2 separate regions of the Homo sapiens genome follow, and region 2 is reported to be linked to region 1. Evidence: microRNA targets listed by miRTarBase, many of them from high-throughput screens and not tested one by one. Region 1 holds a microRNA gene; the other region holds the end of a gene's coding sequence.
Evidence for each region. Region 1 holds the annotated microRNA hsa-miR-5572 (GUUGGGGUGCAGGGGUCUGCU, at 1,841-1,861, opposite strand). A microRNA usually pairs through its seed, bases 2 to 8, with sites in the 3' UTR of a target mRNA and lowers its output. Matches are read on the target gene's strand: a 7mer-m8 pairs with bases 2 to 8, a 7mer-A1 pairs with bases 2 to 7 and ends in A, and an 8mer does both.

Region 1 (4,151 bases):
TGAAGGTTTTTTTGAGTAGATCGGTGCCAGATGGTCCCTGGGCTTCCGGGAAGGACTAGGTACCCAGGAGGCCTTGAGTCTATGAGGCCCACCTTCAGGAGGAGGTGAAGGGGTCTCTCCACACCCGGGTGGGGAACCAGATGTGGAGAAGGATCTCACGTGTGACTGCAGGAAGGTGGATGCTATCCTGAGAAACAGGATTCTGGGCTCAAGGTGGTAACCGTGCTGAGTGCCTGGCTGACTTGAGAGCAACTGCTATGGGGTTTCTCCTTCCTCAGACAGGGTGCTGTGCTTCTAAACTGGGTTCCAGTGAACCACGTGGCGAGAATACTTAACAGACGAAGAGGAGACACACTGCAAGTAAATGGGACTAAGGCTGGAGGGACAAGCATGGCCTCAGGAAATGCTGTGCCCCAAGACCTCGGGCTGAGTGGGACGGACGTGCTGCTGTTAGTGGAGGAGGTGGGGAGGGCTGGGCAGCAGATGACAACTCCCCATTGTGTGCTAGGGGCTCTGCACAGCATTTTTCTTTCTTTTGTTTTTTCAGACAGGGTCTCACTGTGTCACCCAGGCTGGAGTGCAGTGGTGTGATCATGGCTCACTGCAGCCTCAACCTCCTGGGATCAAATGATCCTCCCACCTTAGCCTCCTGAGTAGCTGGAATTACAGGCATGCACCACAACACCTGGCTAATTTTTTTTTTTTTTTTTTGTAGAGACAGGGTTTTGCAATGTTGCCCAGGCTAGTCTTGAACTCCTGGGCTCCGGTGATCTGCCACCTTGACCTTTCAAAGTGCTGGGATTACAGATGTGAGTCACCGCGCCCTGCCTGCACAGAATTGTTCATAAGGCTGACAGACAAGCAGTTCTAATGGAAGCTTTTAACTTGCCACGTGGAAATTCAGATGTTTGGGCTCAGATTCACGCTCATCTGAGGAATCAATTCTGTAGAGAAAAGCTCTATGAGCCGCACTGCTGGGTGTCACCCAGTGACCTCACTGTGAGAAAGCAGGCACCAGCTTGGACTTCTTACCAGGACCACGGGTCTCTTATGAGCTTGTCCTGACGTGGAGTGGAACCCTAGCCCTGGGAGACATGCTGAGGAGGTTCCTTACACACACGGAGAGTGGGCAAGGCCCAGGATCCTGAGAAATGCACAGGACACAGCGGTTCCTTAACCCTCTATGGCCTGAGGTTTTGTTAACAAAGTAAGATAGGTGTTTTTAATATTTAAAAGAGACAGAAAACTTTGCAGTGTTATTTATGCAATTGATTGTCTCTATAGCTATTCTCTAGTTTCTTGAAACAAGACTATAAGGTTTTTGACTTGGGGGACCTGAAAATCCTTGCCAGGGCCATAATGGGTTAAAATGGTATTCAGATCACCTCACAGCACAGCAACATCATCCCAATGCCTTGAAAATGATAAAGTCAAATCACAAAGCCAAGGCCTAAGCATCCAGTCTCTTAGGAACACCATAGGCCTCCTCATAGCCAGAGAGAGAGGAGGTGCTTGGAAACCTCCAGACCTTGTTTTGGTAGCTGGGAGCTTGGAGCTCAGCCTCCTGAATTCAGGCTGTTCAGAAAGCATTTGTGCTGGCTTTCCCAGAATCTCACTCCCTCATTCCCCACCTACCGAACCCTGGAGTCCTGTTGGCAAGACTGGAGTAGGCATTCCCACTTGGCGAGGAGGTAGCTGGGCTGGAGAGGGGGCTGTAGGAAGAGGGGTCTGCCGGGTAGGTGTGGCTCGTTCCAATCCCAAAGGGAGATGACTGAGTCTTGCTGGACTGAGATGGGATTTGCTACAATCAGGACAAAGCAAAGAGATGGAAAGCATCACCAGCAGACCCCTGCACCCCAACCGATGCCCCAGGCTGGTCGCAGGGGCAGTGCCTGCTCTGGGTTGACAGTGACTCCCCATGACCCTCTTGTCTGGCTAGGCACAGGCCTGGGATCAGCCCGGTGTGTGAGGGCCCAGGAACTGCAGGATCTTTGGGGCACGTCTGGTTGAAGTTACTCCCCAGGGCTACGAGGATCCGGGCCCTCTGGAGTCTGGTTACCAAGGCCTTGGCATTATGAACACCTAGAACTCCCTCAGCCCAATCAACACCCACCCTCACAGTGACTATGAGGGTCTGGGGATGTCACAAGGGTTGGTGGTTTCATGCCCTCCTGGCGCAGGGGCAGCCAGAGGTCCAGAGTAGTGAGGGGCTCATTCTTGATGAGGTGTCTCAACCTGCCCAACCTTTCCCTGCCAGCTGCCTCAGGGCATGGCTGTAAGGAGAAAAGGCTGCTGAAGTTGCAGGCTGGGCACCTGGCTCTCCGAGAGCCCTGAGGGTGGATGGTGCTCCTGAGTAGCCAGCTGCTGTTAGGGTGGTTGGTTCCAGCTAGGAGCCGACCCATCCTCAGAACCGCAATCCAAAGAAAACACTTCCCAGAGTGCTCTGCCTCTCTGGTCACCCAGGGGAGATGCCCTCACAGATGCCCATACCTGTCCCGGAAAGGGCGGACGACTCCCTGTCCATGCCACCTGACTCTGGTTTAGCTGCCGGGAGATTTGGGACATGTTCTGGCCCGTGGAAGAAGAGGACTGAATATCATTCACTCCAGGCACATGAACCACTGAAGAGCTAGAAAAGAGGAAAATGCATTTATCCCGAGGACACACCTGGTTTGCATGAGTCTACGTGCCCAGCCAACCACACAATCTGCCCTGGGCCATCTTCCTGGCTCTCTCTCCATGCAGCACGTCACTAGAGAAAATGACTCACACATCGTGAGCCTCAAAGCCCCTTGGCCGTCCTCCTCTCCCTTCAGGGCTTCCTCTACACTGCTGAGTAGTCCTGCCATGTCTAGTAGTCTGGTACTTCCTCTCCTCGTTCTCCCCAGGGTCTCCCACGCACTCTTCAGCCCCTATCCTATGCCTGTACATCCTCTGCTCTCAGCAGATGATTTGGTTCCCAGAAAGAGAGAAGCTTCTTAGAATAAAAATCAGTCCCACTGTTCACTCACTCTTTTGTGCTCTGGTTAATTTGTTCCTTTGGGGCACCTATGAGGCTTAAGGATTCAGGAAATAGGTTGCAGGCTGTCAGTTTTAAACGGAAAGAAAAGCTTCTCAATGAAAACCTGCTGGATGGGGCCTAGTCCTGCTACCCAGAGTTTACCCCTCCCACCTTCAGTTCACCTTCGACTTAACTCAGTTTGTCTTTATTAGGCCCCTGCTGTGTGCCGTGCTCTCTGCATGGCCTTTGCAGGCTAAATCTCTGACCCTGCTTAGCTCCTCGGCAGGCACTGTCTGTACCACCAGGCGCTTCTTCCAGGAGATTTTCCAGGCTATGTCGATTACATGAGAAGCTCATCAAAGACTAAAAGGCTGGGGGCAGACTTTTACTTTGTTTCAGGCCCCTCCTCCTGCCTCCCTGGGACTAGCTCAGCATGCAGGGCAGTGCGCTGGGTGCCCATGAATCAGTCAAGTAGGGCAGAATGGGGCTCATCACAGAAGGCTTTGGTAGATTTTCAGCTCCGTGTTAAAAAAAAGGCAAGCCAGAGATCAGCAGAGATTGGGTAAAATTTTACTATTGTATTCTAATAAGTTTCCTATGCTATCTGATCCCTTTTAAAATAGGGAGAAACCAAGAATGTCAGAGACATTCTTGAGCTGATCATTGTAAAACAAGTTCAGTGGCTTATATAAAGGGGACATCATTTCTGTCTTCATACAATCAATTCCTCATTTAACATAAGGGCTCCTTTCCCATTCTCCTTCCTGATGAAAGTATTGCTTCAGAGGACATTTTCTGGTCACTATTGTCTAGTAGGACCCTCTCCACAGCCCCCAGCCCTTGGTGTCCTCCCCAAAACACTGACTGATGAGGGCCGCTACAGCGTAGACGGTCCTAGGAAAGGCGCCTTGGCAGAAAGGGATGGGCTTCTTGGGGCAAAGCGCCAGCCCTTGTGCACAGCCCTCCCTGGGGGCCTCTGGGCTACAGCTGCCTGCCTTAGTGTGGACAGGCAGGGGCCAAAACTGGCGGGACCAGAGAGGGAGGACTGTGGGTGAGGATGCACTTCAGGTGCCAGCAACACCATTCTGCAAGCGGCCCAGGATTCCCTATGGCTGTATTGGGCCCCAGAGTCCTTCATCCCACAGCCTAC
Region 2 (4,000 bases), not on the chromosome of region 1:
GTAAGCATGCCTAACCCTTGTTGATTACTGGTAGTTGTAAAGAGAATGTAACAGATGTTTGGAGCTATCTGTGGAGAATGCTTAAAACTTGATGAAACCTTAATTTTAATTTTTTTTCTGATACTCTCTTATATCTCAGGCATGTCCAGATCAGCAATGAGTCGGCAATTGACTTCTACAGGAAGTTTGGCTTTGAGATTATTGAGACAAAGAAGAACTACTATAAGAGGATAGAGCCCGCAGATGCTCATGTGCTGCAGAAAAACCTCAAAGTTCCTTCTGGTCAGAATGCAGATGTGCAAAAGACAGACAACTGAACAAATTACAAATGAACTTTCTTGCACTTGCTTGTCGCCAAATAAAAGAGAGGCCCATTGATTCCTCCCCCACCCCAACACTTTTCTTTTAAAGCTTTTCTCCCTCCTTGTTCTTGTTTTTCTTTCTTCCTTTCCTTTTCTCTGAGAGTTTTAATACTTTCAAGGACTTTAAAAAAATAATCATGTTTGAATTGTTTTCTCTTATTTTTGTGAGGTGGTTTGAAGGAAGGACAAGGTAGATCTGTTTAGTTTTGCAGTTGAAGTTAGATGGTCCTAAACATTTAATTGTCAAATAATTTCAAATTTAATGTCCTGCTTTCACATTGAAGGGCAGAGCCTACAAAACATTGTATATTTCAAAAGACAAAAAGAAGCAGCAGCAGTATCTTGTTCTCTAATTCATAGACAAGTTGAGTGTGTTTGTGGTACTTTGGGTTTTTAAACACTTTGGGATACTAATCCCTAGACATTGCCTTCACTCCACCTTTAGTCCTTCTGAGCACTCTCTCGGGAGTTGGAACATTGTTATCCTTGTAAGAAATACTAAGCTTATGTTGATTTTTAAGTAATTATATCTTCTCTTCTTGCTGGTGGGTGGGGCAGTTTGGTTTAGTGTTATACTTTGGTCTAAGTATTTGAGTTAAACTGCTTTTTTGCTAATGAGTGGGCTGGTTGTTAGCAGGTTTGTTTTTCCTGCTGTTGATTGTTACTAGTGGCATTAACTTTTAGAATTTGGGCTGGTGAGATTAATTTTTTTTAATATCCCAGCTAGAGATATGGCCTTTAACTGACCTAAAGAGGTGTGTTGTGATTTAATTTTTTCCCGTTCCTTTTTCTTCAGTAAACCCAACAATAGTCTAACCTTAAAAATTGAGTTGATGTCCTTATAGGTCACTACCCCTAAATAAACCTGAAGCAGGTGTTTTCTCTTGGACATACTAAAAAATACCTAAAAGGAAGCTTAGATGGGCTGTGACACAAAAAATTCAATTACTGTCATCTAATGCCAGCTGTTAAAAGTGTGGCCACTGAGCATTTGATTTTATAGGAAAAAATAGTATTTTTGAGAATAACATAGCTGTGCTATTGCACATCTGTTGGAGGACATCCCAGATTTGCTTATACTCAGTGCCTGTGATATTGAGTTTAAGGATTTGAGGCAGGGGTAATTATTAAACATATTGCTTCTATTCTTGGAAAAATAGAAGTGTAAAATGTTAATAATACAAATGTCACTGTGACCTCCTCCACTGAGAGGACTGGTTTATGCCAGATCATTTTCCGGCACACACGGAGTGGCTTTGACAGATTGATAACTTTGTAAGATGGGAGACATCTGAAATATTCATGTTTTCCTTTTGTAGTCCCATCTCCACTATTTAGAAATGTTCTCAGACTTTAAAATAATGCACAGGGCTTGAGCTTTCTGTCATTTGACTTTAAAAGGAAGTTTCATTCATATTTATCCTCTTATGTAAAATTGCGGTATAAAGTCTCATTTCCAAATATGTTAAATGACAAAATTATTTTATAAAATGTTTATGCACACTTTATAACCTTAAGTTTTTATTTGAGAATGTGAAAGTACAAAGTGCAGTAGACTTCAACAATCTTGAGTGCCAAGAATAATACAGAAAAAGAAGACAGTTGATGAATGAGTTTATAGGGTTCTAATCTTAAGATGGTAAAAATGTAGAAAGACCTTGCTGGTTTTTTGGGGGTATTCGTTTCTTAAACAATCCAAATCTAAGCTTAGAAGAAAAGTTTAGCGTTAAGCACCTTTATCTTCATGAATAAGCTTCAGCTTGCTCTTGGCAAGAGAAGAGTGCTTGAGTTACAGAAGGCATAAGTAGTTTGAAGAATGCAGCAGCCTTTTTGTAAACTTCCCAGATATCAAAATAGACTTTGATATATAAATGGTTTTCTGAGATGACACTGCCTCTATTTCTATAACCATTTCACCTGGACTATCTAATCAGTCCTATGAATGTATCCCTAAATGTGGTTATTGAAAACCTAATAGCTGCCTCATGACAAGTACATGTTATTTAAGGAGGAAAAAATATTAAATTTTGAATTGAGTGTGTAGGCTCCCTATCATTATATATAGAGTTTCTTTTTCCACGGTAGTCAGTGACTTAACCTGAATTGTAAATGTTTGTAAAGGGTTAATTGTCCTACATCAAACTTAGTTAAATAATTCCATCCACTTATGGAGGAGGAGGAGAATGTGGAAGAGGTAAAAAGCTGGGCACAAGTTCATATGCCTATGAGTCAGTAAAGACTGAAGTAATGTCCTATGTTGAGCTGGTTATTTTGATATATGATAATAATTATCTTTGAAGTAGAACAATTCTGTTAACTGGAAAATCACAGGATATATCCATCATATTTTTCAGGACAGATAGTTTTTACTGTGGGGCAAATAGGTTAAAATTACACTATGTTAGTTGCATTTAGGTTTTAAAGCAAAGAATCTGTAGAGAAATCTATGCAATATATAGTTTGTCCAGATTAGCTTTCATTTGGGGAATGAAGTTCTGAAATATCTAAAGCAGTTTACTCATCAATTGAAAAGTCCTCCAAAAAGAGAACTATTGGGAAACCATGGTGTGGTGGTGGAAAAGAAAAGCTCCCTCAGTTTTTTGGAGGGAATAACTTAAAAAAATACTTAAATGGCTAAGTTTACTTGGTGCAGTTAAGAATTAAACTTGTCAATTTTAACATTGCTGTTACATCTGAAATAAACTTATGTGATGTTCTGGTAGTGATCTGTGATATCTGTAAATGTCAAAACTGTATTGTTGAATTCTGCAGCCAGCAACCGTACATACTCATTGTGTAGTGTTTCCCTTACTGCTTTTATTTACTTTCACATTTAAGATCTAATTTTAAAATCATTAAAATAGGCCAAGTGTAATTAAGGCATCCTAATTCAGATCTTCTGTGACTTGCTAGGTACAGTGCCCAATATCTACAATTCAGTTCCAATGAGAGGGAAAAAGTAAGATCCAAGGAACTGTCTTGCTGCTGTATTTTTAATGTAATTATTAGAAATACTTGACACTTTAGGCTGCAATCTAGTTAGTAATGTTTATTGGCTACAGACAACATATTCAGGTGTTTTGTTTTTCTTCCTTGTAAGGAAGGAGTACGGTAGTTCAATGAGTTGGGAATTGGCTTTTAAGCTTTTTATCAAACATGAATTTAAGATTTTTTCTTTAACAGAATTCAGTATTTAATATTTCTAGTCAAAATTGTTATAATTAGATTTTTGCTTTTTTCATTTAAGAAGCAATGAGTGATCCTTGTCTAGTGTGTCTCAGTTATTACTGTAGTTTAAAACAACAAACAAGTATTACCTTCCACAGTTCTGGATCAGGAATCTAGGAGCTGCTTAACTGGGTGGTTCTGTCTTGAGATCTCAGAAGGTTGCAGTCAAGCTGTTAGCCAGGACTGTACCATCTTGAAGCTTGACAAGGCTAGAGGAGCCATTTCCAAGATGTCTTGCTTACGTGGCTCTTGGGCTTCTGTTCCTCACTGTGTGGGTATCACACACAGTGCCTGATGCTCACGTGGCTCTTGGGCTTCAGTTCCTTGGGCACCAGTTGCCTGGTGGACAACTGGTATGTGGCTTCCCCTAGAGCAGGTGATATAAGAAAGTGAGCAGAAACCATACTTTT

Region 2: miRTarBase lists NAA50 as a target of hsa-miR-5572. Seed matches in the 3' UTR shown: 7mer-m8 at 389-395.

The regions. Positions count from the first base shown.
Region 1 is chr15:80,578,889-80,583,039 of GRCh38, reverse strand. MIR5572 (microRNA 5572) reads right to left here and starts at 1,937; the gene lies at 1,801-1,937. It overlaps ARNT2 (aryl hydrocarbon receptor nuclear translocator 2), which reads right to left. Exons shown (of 19, transcript NM_014862.4): 16 at 2,491-2,629; 17 at 1,636-1,801. ARNT2-AS1 (ARNT2 antisense RNA 1) reads left to right here. Exons shown (of 2, transcript XR_007064732.1): 2 at 279-3,010.
Region 2 is chr3:113,718,077-113,722,076 of GRCh38, reverse strand. NAA50 (N-alpha-acetyltransferase 50, NatE catalytic subunit) reads left to right here. Exons shown (of 5, transcript NM_025146.4): 5 at 140-4,000. The coding sequence ends at 317. Among named protein-coding and RNA genes, the nearest start is that of USF3, 23 kb to the right of the region's middle.